Linked DNA regions of Homo sapiens: region 1 is linked to region 2. A link means that fine-mapping ties the variant in region 2 to the expression of a gene that starts in the linked region. Tissue or cell type: monocytes. Region 2 holds a variant in brackets; the other region holds the start of a gene. All regions are shown on one strand. Distances are from middle to middle.

Evidence for each region. PIP is the estimated chance that this variant, and not a neighbour inherited with it, causes the effect.
Region 1: F10-AS2 starts here. The variant in region 2 is fine-mapped to the expression of F10-AS2 in monocytes (Quach 2016, PIP 0.95). The same link has a PIP of 0.9 or more in monocytes after LPS, monocytes after Pam3CSK4 and monocytes after R848.

The regions. Positions count from the first base shown.
Region 1 is chr13:113,151,753-113,156,974 of GRCh38, forward strand. It overlaps F10-AS2 (F10 antisense RNA 2), which reads right to left and starts at 2,234. Exons shown (of 3, transcript XM_011537532.4): 1 at 2,162-2,234; 2 at 1,392-2,018. The coding sequence starts at 2,234. LOC124903216 (a long non-coding RNA gene) reads left to right here and starts at 2,748. Exons shown (of 4, transcript XR_007063880.1): 1 at 2,748-3,113; 2 at 3,305-3,363; 3 at 4,065-4,128; 4 at 4,778-4,858. RefSeq lists a silencer at 2,615-2,664.
Region 2 is chr13:113,195,361-113,200,582 of GRCh38, forward strand. PCID2 (PCI domain containing 2) reads right to left here. Exons shown (of 14, transcript NM_001127202.4): 2 at 5,067-5,156; 3 at 2,831-2,904; 4 at 1,818-1,883; 5 at 821-862. Among named protein-coding and RNA genes, the nearest start is that of PCID2, 11 kb to the right of the region's middle. The variant A/G (reference allele first, on the strand shown) is at 2,608.

The sequences.
Region 1 (5,222 bases), 44 kb before region 2:
TCACGGTGGGGAGCGAAGGTGGGAGAAGTGATTCCGCCTGAGAGTGAGGGAGAGAGAACCTGCAGCAGCCCCATCGCCTCCCCCAGTGACACCTCCCCTCCCCCTGAGCAGGAAGGGGAGCTTTGGGGCGTCCACCTCTGGAGGACGAAGGTGAGAGCGGGTGTCGGGGGCCTGGTGGGGCAGGGAGGCCCTTGTGGGTGCTGGGAGACCAGCCTGTGTGGGTCCAGAGCTGCGCTTGGATGGGGAGATGGGCCTGCCGTCTGGGAACACGCAGCCCAGGCTGTGAGGAAGAGGAAGCAGGAATGAGAGCTTCAGCCAGGACAGCTGGTGGACGGCAGACCTCGGCCCCACCATCACTGTCATGGAGCCATCTCAGCAGGGCTGGGGGTTAAGCTCCCGTTTAGAAGGACCCCACTCCACAGCCACGGGGTAGCCACTGATGTGGGCAAGCGCCCGCCATGAAGACCCCACCTTGGTGGAAGGGCACTGAGAAACTGGACACCCTCGAGACTCAGAGGATCACCTCAGAACTGGCCTGTTAACTATGCCAGGAAAGCATGCCTTTAGCGTGGCAAAACCTGGGGACCCAGCCTCCTCCTGAGCCGAAGGCAGGGGGCTGCCAAAACACTGTCTAAGCAGAGCCCGATCCTGAGTCAGGCAAGTCCAGATGGAGGAAACCATAGACTCTTAAAAAACGTCAGCGTCAGCAAAGACCAGAAACAGCCAGTGACTCTGCAGTCAGTGAGACCAGAGGAGTCTGCAGGCTGCCAGGAGAGCGAGGGAGACTGCTGGGGGTTCCCGTCAGACAGCGCTCAGCGGGGGCGAGGGGAGAGGGAGAGAGGCAGAGCCAGAGAGACAAAAAGAAAGAGAGACAGAGACAGAGAGAAAGAGAGAGACAGAGACAGAGAGAAAGAGAGAGACAGAGACAGAGAGAAAGAGAGAGACAGAGACAGAGAGAAAGAGAGAGACAGAGACAAAGAGAAAGAGAGAGACAGAGAAAGAGAAACAGAGGGGAGGGAGTAAGTCCAGGTAAAAAACAAACAAAAAAATTGAGAATAGAACAAGAGAGAAACAGAGACATGGAGACACAGAGAAAGACACAGTGAGACACAGGAGACAGAGACAGAGAGAGATGCTGAGAGACAGACAGGGAGAGGGAGAGAGAGAGGAGACACCAAGACACAAAGAGGGCGGAGAGACAGACACAGAAAGAGGGAGACAGCGGGGCTGGATGGACGTGTGGCCGGGCCAGTGGGGAGGAGAGACGAGTCCGCAGACAGCGTTCAGAGGCCGCGCTGCCTGGGTGCTGAGCCGTCCCGGGGTTCACGGTCGCAGTTTGTCCTTACAAAACGCCCAGCCGCCCCGACCTGTGGTGCTTAGGGAGGACCTACCTGGCTGTGCCGGTCTGAGAAGGGGCCAGTGAGGCCCGGTGCGGGTACGGGCGGGTGCAGATGCAGCCAGGAGGACGGGCGGGAGCGGGGGCCTGTCCCACACGGGGGCCTCGGCAGCACCGGCATGGCTGGAGGCCAGTACGGCCAGGTGTGGCGGGAGGGAGCGCCGTCTGGCTTGGGTCGTCCATCCTGACAGGACGCTGCAAGGGCAGGAGCCCCGCGCCCCGTGTCCTGCGCCCCCGCTCGAGGACAAGCCCCAGCCGCCGGTCTCCGCTGGGTTCCGACAGGCCTTGCTGGGAGGCCTTGCTGGGAGCTGGGGGTCGAGGCTCACAGACTGCGCTGACCCCAGCAGGCACAGCTGGGTCCAGGGACTCGGGAACTCGCAGCCTGACGCGGGCCGGACCCCCGGGGTGGGTGCTGAGGGCCTCGGATGCCCTCCCTGGCTGGACGTTGTGGCTGTGCTGATACTGAGCGGTAACCCTAGGAAGGAGAGTCCCCTGGGCTCAGCTACCCGGGACAAGGTCAACAGGGACACCGGCCCCAGTTCCAGGAGAAAAACAAGCACGGCCAGCGGCGAGTGTGGGCGACAGCAGCTCAGGGAGAAGCAGATTATCAACAGCGAATTCACTCAGGGTCAGCCAACTGTACGCTTAAAAAAAGATTCCTGCGGTAAACTGTATGTCTATTTTACCACAATAAAAAACTTATTGTTTTTAATTACCAATGACTTCTAAAAAATGTTTTTAAAACCCAGATCACAAATCCTGAACATAGGGCCTGAAAGGCGAATTCAGCCACCACGGAGGACTCCCGCACCGTGGAGCCGGGACGCAGGGACTCCATGCTGCGCGGAGGGCAGGGGCACGTGACGCAGGGCGTGGGGGAGGCGGGGCGTGGAGGAGGCGGGGCGCGGGGGGCGGGGCGTGGGGGAGGCGGGGCGTGGGGGCGGGGCGTGGGGGGCGGGGCGTGGGGGAGGGCAGGGGCACGTGACGCAGGGCGTGGGGGAGGCGGGGCGCGGGGGAGGCGGGGCGCGGGGGAGGAGGGGCGTGGGGGGGCGGGCCGTGGGGGAGGAGGGGCGTGGGGGGGCGGGCCGTGGGGGAGGAGGGGCGTGGGGGGCGGGGCGTCGGGGAGGGCAGGGGCACGTGACGCAGGGCGCGGGGGAGGCGGGGCGCGGGGGAGGCGGGGCGCGGGGGAGGCGGGGCGCGGGGGAGGCGGGGCGCGGGGGAGGCGGGGCGCGGGGGAGGCGGGGCGCGGGGGAGGAGGAGGAAGGGTTCTGAGTGGACGCGGGGACTCCATGCCACGCGGAGGGCAGCCGCTCATGAGGCGGGGTGTGGGGGAGGAGGAGGAAGGGTTCTGGAGTGGCTTTTCTACTCCAGAAGTCTCCCCGATCCTGAAAGAAAATCTAGACAGGTGGAAAAAAGAGAAACATGTCCAGATAGTGTCTTCCACATTAATGGTCTCCCAAGCTCTGAGGAAGCCCAATGAGTTGAACAGTTTCTCATAAGCTTGCGGGTCCCTGTCAGTGCTTCTGAGATGCTAAAAACGCCAGGCTGTGGGCTGCGTCACCATGTGTCTCCTCTTTAATTTCTTCAGGAGCTCCAGGTGATAAGCTGCCACCTCCATCCACAATGTGGACATCAGAGGATGCAGCATGCTGTGGTTTGAATGTGTCCCTATAGTGCACGTGTTGGAAACTTAATCCCAAGGCAACAGTGTTGAGAGGTGGGACCTTTAAGACGCATTCATTGTCAGAGCCCACGTGAATGAATTGATACCACTATTGTAGGAGTGGGTTCGTTATTTTGGAATAAAAGGATGAGTTTGGCCCCCTTCCTCTCTCCCCTTTCTCTCTCTCTCTCTCTCTCTCTCTCTCTCTCTCACGCGCATCCACCTTCCACCATGGGATGACGCAGCAAGAAGGCCCTCGCCAGATGGGGGCCCCTGGACCTTTGATGTCCCAGCCTCCAGAACTGTAAGAAATAAATTTCTGTTCTTTATAAATTACCCAGTCTCAGATATCCTGTTACAGCACCACAAAGTGGACTAGACCACACTCTACTCTGTGAATCTAAGACGCACCATTATTGATGAACCTGAAAGAAAGAGCATATACCCAAATTAGCTGTGGGTCAGCTCAGCCTGGAGGCAAGAGGGGGAAGCTCAGATAATCTAAACCACAGGCCAGCCAGGAACCAGCTTTGCAATACATTTACACTATTCACATGGGCTCCCAAAACTCACACAAAAAAATGTATTTAAAGGGATTGCAAAGTGGCAGTGCCCCCAGGGGGCAACATAAAGCACAACCCCTTTCAGGAAGAACTCGGCCTTGTCCAGGCTGACATTAGAACATTGGCTGTAGGGAACAGGCCAATTCAGAGATGTTGAAATCTAAAACATAGGTCCCAGAGTTGATTGAACAGGTATTTAAATAGGGACTGCGGCAAGATCTAAGTATTCAATGACCAGGTTCTCCATAGGCTGCTCATTTCAGGTTCCACACAAAGTTGTGGGGTCAGTTGATTTAAGCTGGGGACCCCCACAGAGGACACCCCAACATCTGAAGGACACGACAAAGACCCCAAAGGAAGGAAGATTCTCCTCAGGTATACAGAAGGAAAGTAAACCAGTCAATGGAAAAAGTGTCCCAATGTTGGTTGGTTTGTTTTTCAGAACAGAAGAGGGTGACAGAAGAACGATTATTCATATGAGAGATGAGGAAGATGAGTAGAACGAGGTGAATCTTAATGTTTGGACAATTTATTATTGTAGAATTTTTGGTCCAAAGGTGGTATCTTTGAGAAGGCAGATGAGAAAATTAAATCACCACATACAACACGGTCAGTCCACGTACAACACAGTCAATCACAGCTGTGGCCTCGATGTTGATGCCTTCCTGTATTAGTCTGTTCTCATGTCACTGTGAAGAAATACTTGAGACTAGGTAATTTATAAAGAAAAGCGGTTTAATGAACTCACAGTTCCACATGGCTGGGGAGGCCTCAGGAAACATAATCATGGCAAGCAGGCACCTCTTCACAGGGTGGCAGGAGAGAGAAAATGTGTGTCAATCACAGGGGGAAGCCCCTTATAAAATCATTAGCTCTTGTGAGAATGCACTCACTATCACAAGAACCACCTCCATGATTCAATCACCTCCACCTGGTCCTGCCCTTGACCTGTGGGGATTATTACAATTCAAGGTGAGATTTGGTTGGGGACACAGAGCCAAACCATCCCCCAAAACTCACGTTGAAACCTAACCCCCTGTGCAATAGTACTAGGAGGTGGGGCCTCTGGGAGGCACTCTGCCTTCATGGATGGATGACTGCCCTCCCAAAAGAGGCTCCAGGGAGCACCCACATTCCTCCCTTCCACCATCCAAGGACACGTCTATGAATCATGGGCCGTCACCAGACACTGAGTCTACTGGAGCCTTGATCTTGGACTTCCCATCCTCCAGAACTGTGAGCACTACGTTTCTGTTTATCGTAAATTACCCACTCTAAGGTGTTTTGTTACAGCAGCCCCAACAGACTAAAATGGTCCATGAGGGAAGAGGTTGTAGCTCAGATACCCATGTCAGGCATATAGGATGTGCTTAATTAACACTTATTGATCGAATGTGTATGTCCCTGTCTGCCTTTCCATTTTTAGGCAGCTATTGATGGTTTTTAAACTATCCAGCAGAAGTATTTTTAATGTAAATTTCCATGTGGGAATACATTTTCACACAAAAAAAGGCACCTTTTCTTAAGTGAAGGCCACGTAGATTGCCAGGCTGGTGCAATTCACCCAAGAGCTATCCTATACAATCAACTTCTGGCTTTC
Region 2 (5,222 bases):
GTCAGAGACCTCAGCCCTGCTTCAGTTCTGGGCTCCCAGGATATCCTCCTCCCCTCAGCTTCCCACCAGTATCCAAACAGCACCACTAAAAAAGAAGTGGTTTGATCAGATTTCCTAACAGGAACCAGAATATGTAATACACAAAATGTCACAAAACAACTTTTACAGCCAACTGGCAAAACTGGACTGTTTTCATGTGCAAGTTTTCACGTTAAAAGATAAAAGGGTGGCGGGAGGCAGAGGCTGCAGTGAGCCAAGACTGCGCCACTGCACTCCAGCCTCGGCGACTGAGCAAGACTCCTTCTCAAAAAAAAAAAAAGATAAAAGGGCGGGTTTGTTTGCAAAAGGCCTTTGGTTATTTCAGTATAAACAAATTTCAGTATTAACCTATAGTTTGTTAATAAATCATAAAATTTAGTTTGGCAAGGCATTTAAAAATACCACCATTATTATGTATTAGAACACCCCAAATGAACCGTAGTTGGTCTACCTCTTTTATCTAAGGTTTAAAACCAAAAGTTCAAAATTGACAACTGAAGGAAAAAACAGTATTTAATAAATATCTAGGGAAATGGACATCTGAAATAAAAATAATACTATATTGACATAGACACACTGCAAACAATGTGGCTGATCTACCATTTCAGTTTACTAGATTTGTGACTCCACTCATCTGTGTAGATATTACCATATGTCAACACACTGATTACCAAATATCCACATGGAAAATACAATACACATTTATTTAAAGCAAATTTGTAAAAAGATTCTGCTAAAAAAATTGCCATTTGCTAATTCAGCTGTTTCTGTTCACACTTACCAGTTTTCTTCTTTGTGGGCCTGGAATGCTCGCAAGAATGATGTACTGTATTAAGGAAGATATGGCATACAAAGTTCAAATAATGCTACGTACGATAAAAGTAAAGAATAAGAATCTAAATTTTAAGGAATGTAGATCACCCTTGAGCAGATTTATGTTGCAACAATAGTAAGTTCTTGAAGGAAAAAAGGTATAAGCTCACATTACAAATATCTGTATCTCATTAGGCTCAAGTATACTAAATACACTTATTTCATACACACTGTCTCCTAAATAAAAAAGACTTACAAGATTTTTTAAAATCAGCCCTTTCTGACATTTTATTTGGTTTCTCTGAGCCCAGATGATCATGAGTTATATTTAAGTGCTTTAGAATCTGTAGCATAAGGCTGATTTTATCAACTCTAGAATTCTTGAATTCTAAGGAGGCTGTGAGCAAATAGCCCAACTCTCTTCTGTGTATATTTAAACAAGGTGGTTAAAACGAAAAGACAAAATCTAGAGATACATACAAATCCTTAGCACACTCACTGACTCAGGCCGTAACTAAAGATACCCTTTAAATGACTGAAGTATGAATTGGTTTGATTTAAGGTCTTCAGCTGCCACAATTCAATGCCGATGTACATCTGAGGCCACTCTTGTCCATCTCTGCCTGAATTCTGGATTTCTGGTATTTCACCAACAGGACTTAACCAGTCCCTGTAAATATACTTACTACCTTACTAAAGGCAACAAAGCATTCTTCTTCTCAGCAGAGTAAGATCCTTCTTCCTAACCAGTGTTCTTCCTTACTAAGTACTGCACGAGTCTTCAGATCCATGCTAAATTTAAGTACCCAAGTGAAAGAGCTGAAACGAGCTTCTGTTCCAAAACACTGTCATTCCTTTCTAACTGCAGAAATGAGCAACTGGCCCAGTGTTTCCGGGTCTCAAGTCCCAAGTAATCCACTGCATGTGTTCTATGCGGGACAGCTGCCATGAACGACAAAGGATATTGGACTATCACGGTCTGGCACTTGTATGCCTCTATGAAGTCATGATTCCCCACTGCATAAGTGCACCTGGAGGAGAAACAGAAACATGCTGTCACACAATAAAAACCTAGCACTAGTTATGCAGCCCACACAGCTCACTTCATTGCACAGGTCCCAGTGGTCCTGGGATGAAAGGAGTGAAGGAAGAAACACACAAATGGCTGAACACAAACAGGTGAGGATAAGAGGAAGTCCCACAGTAAGCTTGGAGACTACTCTTTCAAGTCCCAGAAGGACCTAGCACCAGCAGGTTTATGAGTAACACATGTTGATAACATAGTATGACCCTTCCACTCTAGCAGGGGCTGACAATGACATTCAAACTAGATTCCCAGCTGGGTAATGTCAGTGTTAGTTCATCGCCAAATCTGGAACCTATCGCACACTGCACAGAGCTAGGAAATCACAGGTGCTTTGTACTACAAGGAACACGGTGGTGCCCCAACTCTTCCAAAGACCCTGTGGGGTTCACAGAACATTCCTGCTCACAGACCCCACACTGGTCCTGTAGCCCAGGCTGCTCTGAAAGACAGTAATCAAATCTCACATGGCTATAAGGACACAATCTTCTGCCTGAACTGATCCTTTAGAGATAAAACAGTAGATATGAAGTGTACATAAAAAGTAGCATTGTTTGCTTTGCTCAACTCTAATTTCTTTCCCAGTAACGTAAAGAGCTTCAAAAACAGACATATTTCCACGAAAAGGGTAAGTGAACAGTTCGGCTCCAAACTCTACTAAAAAGACCACT[A/G]AGCAGGCACTCTGCTAAATACTGTGTGATGTTAAAAATAGTATTATATAACTGATGTTTACAATTTCCACAGGCTTTACCAAACTGAAGTTACAAATGCATTTTCCCACTTTTTCAAAGTCAGTTATTCACTGCTTCAAGCACAAGATAATGCAAGATAAAATCCCCAGTTAATTCAGCAATTTCCAGATGTGTGTGTTTTTCTTCCTCCCCAACAGATTACCTTAAATGAGCTGCAAACATTTCATCATAAGGGGGTTCCAAGACTTGTTGACACTTCTCCTCTGGAGAGGCCATCTGATTTTAAAAAAGAAAAATAGCAAAAGTAAAATTAATAGGCACAGAAAGAATGCAACATATAGAAAGAGATTTAAACCTCTGTTTCAAGAGAATTTATGCTTTACAGTTCACAGTAACACTTTATATTTACCACTCTAAATAAAAGGTTCAGGCCGTGAGCACAGTGGCTCATGCCTGTAATCCCAGCACTTTGGGAGGGCGAGGTGGGCAGATCACTTGAGGCTAGAAGTTCAAGACCAGCCTGGCCAACATGGTGAAAGCCCGTCTCTACAAAAAAAATTACAAAAATTAGCTGGATGTGGTGGTACACGCTGGTAATCCCAGCTACTCAGGAGGCTGAGGCATGAGAATCGCTTGAACATGGGTGGGGGAGGTTGTAGTAAGCCAAGATCGTGCCACTGCACTACAGCCTGGGTGACAGAGGGAGACTCTGTCTCATAAATAAATAAATAAATAAATGGTTCATTACTTCAACAAATATTTATCAATATTTCAGGGGAAAAAGAAGCCCATGAATATAATTTGGTCTCGCCTTCTGCAAGTCAGAAAATATTCTAGGCACTTTCATATACATTTCAGTATATTAGTATTCTTGACCAGTCAGTCAAGAAATACTTGTTAAGTAACTGTCATAGGTTTAGTAAGTGAGGTCTAATGAGTTACAGATGGTGCTATGTTAGGACTCGTTCTTCTCGGCTTCCTGCTGAGACCACCAGTCTCATCTCCTGGGCTAGTCTAGCTGACATTTCTTTCTAAGTTTTCCTTTCCTCCTAACAGTCAAATTTTAGATAATCTGAACATCTCAACAGGTGATGGTTAATTTTGCCAACTTGACTAGCTGTGGAGTCCCCAGACAATGTTATTTCTGGGAGTGTCTGTGAGGGTGTTTCTGGATGAGACTGGCAGTTGCACTAGTAGACTCAGGAAAGTAGATGGCCCTCCTCAGTGTGGACGGGCAATGGCCAATCTGATGAGGGCTTGAATAGAACAAGAGGTCGAGGAAGAAAGAATTCACTCCTTGTGTGGGATTTCTTGACCTCTACAATCACAGGACCCAGTTCCTCATACTAAATCTCTATAAATATTGATATATCCCACTGGCTCTGTTTCTCTGGAGAACCCAGACTAACACACAATGGATTATAAGCACACTGCGTTTTTTTGTTTTGTTTGGTTTTGTTTACAAAAGCAATGAGCCCATGCTGATATGGTGAGAGAGAAGAATGACAGTATCAGAAAAATCACCATTCTACAGTCCCTGGTGAATGAAACCACCGAAAGAAAGTTTACTGGGGAATTTTACAATGAAGGGATCTGTCTCAGATTGCAAACAGGACAGTGTGTGTCCTCTCATGTCATACAATACAAAGCACAGGGCACCAGCCATGGGGTGTTCTGGCCAAGGCAAGCCTGAGTCTCATCGAGTCTCTAGCACTAACTCCTACTTAGAGCAATGGTTTTCAACACTGTCTACACATAGAATCACCTAGGTAACTTTATTAGAAAAACAAAAACAGGCCTGCTGCTACTTCAGAGACTGATTTACCTGGTCTGAGTTGCAAGTCTGTACACCGCCAAACATAATCACCAATAGATAAGCCCATTTTTCTTCCAAAAGAAAAATGCTGCTTCCAGTAGGAACACACTCCAATATGATAAAGGGTGTCAATGAGGAAACAGGGCTTTACCAAATGTCCACAAGATTTTCTATAGAAAATACTGCCTCAACATCATCTACGCCACAGATGACATGGAAACTCCATGTACAACCCCAGGCTGGGCCTTGGCTTGCCAGCCTTTCTGACTAACAACTTAAATGGGAGACACCTGTGGTACATGACGTCTATGGGGCTTTGGGGACGCACAGGCCTAGACAGAATCTAAGCTCCACCGCCTCTCCACCATCTAACTTCTCTAAACCTCAGAGAGCTGTCTAGGAATCAAACACAAGGGCAGGAGGTCCACATCACCACAGTGTGCGTACATAGTCAGTGCTCCACAAATGGATTGAAATTACATAAATCATAAAGAAACTTTAAAATTTTCAAATAAGAGTGACAATATTAGTTTTCTTCTTACTCAAACTCTACGCTTCTCTTAGGAAAGTGGTTACCCTGTAATTGTCTGCAGACACCTGTGTGCACAGCTCTTTCACCTACTTGAAGTCGTGGGTTTGCAACATGAGGATGTTTAAAAGACACCAACTCTGCACAAGATGCTCCATCTCTGCTGTCGATGGCTTCGTACACCTGAAACATTTGAAAGGGAAACCTAAGTAGAAAATAAAATATTCTGTTCGAATAGAACCTACAACA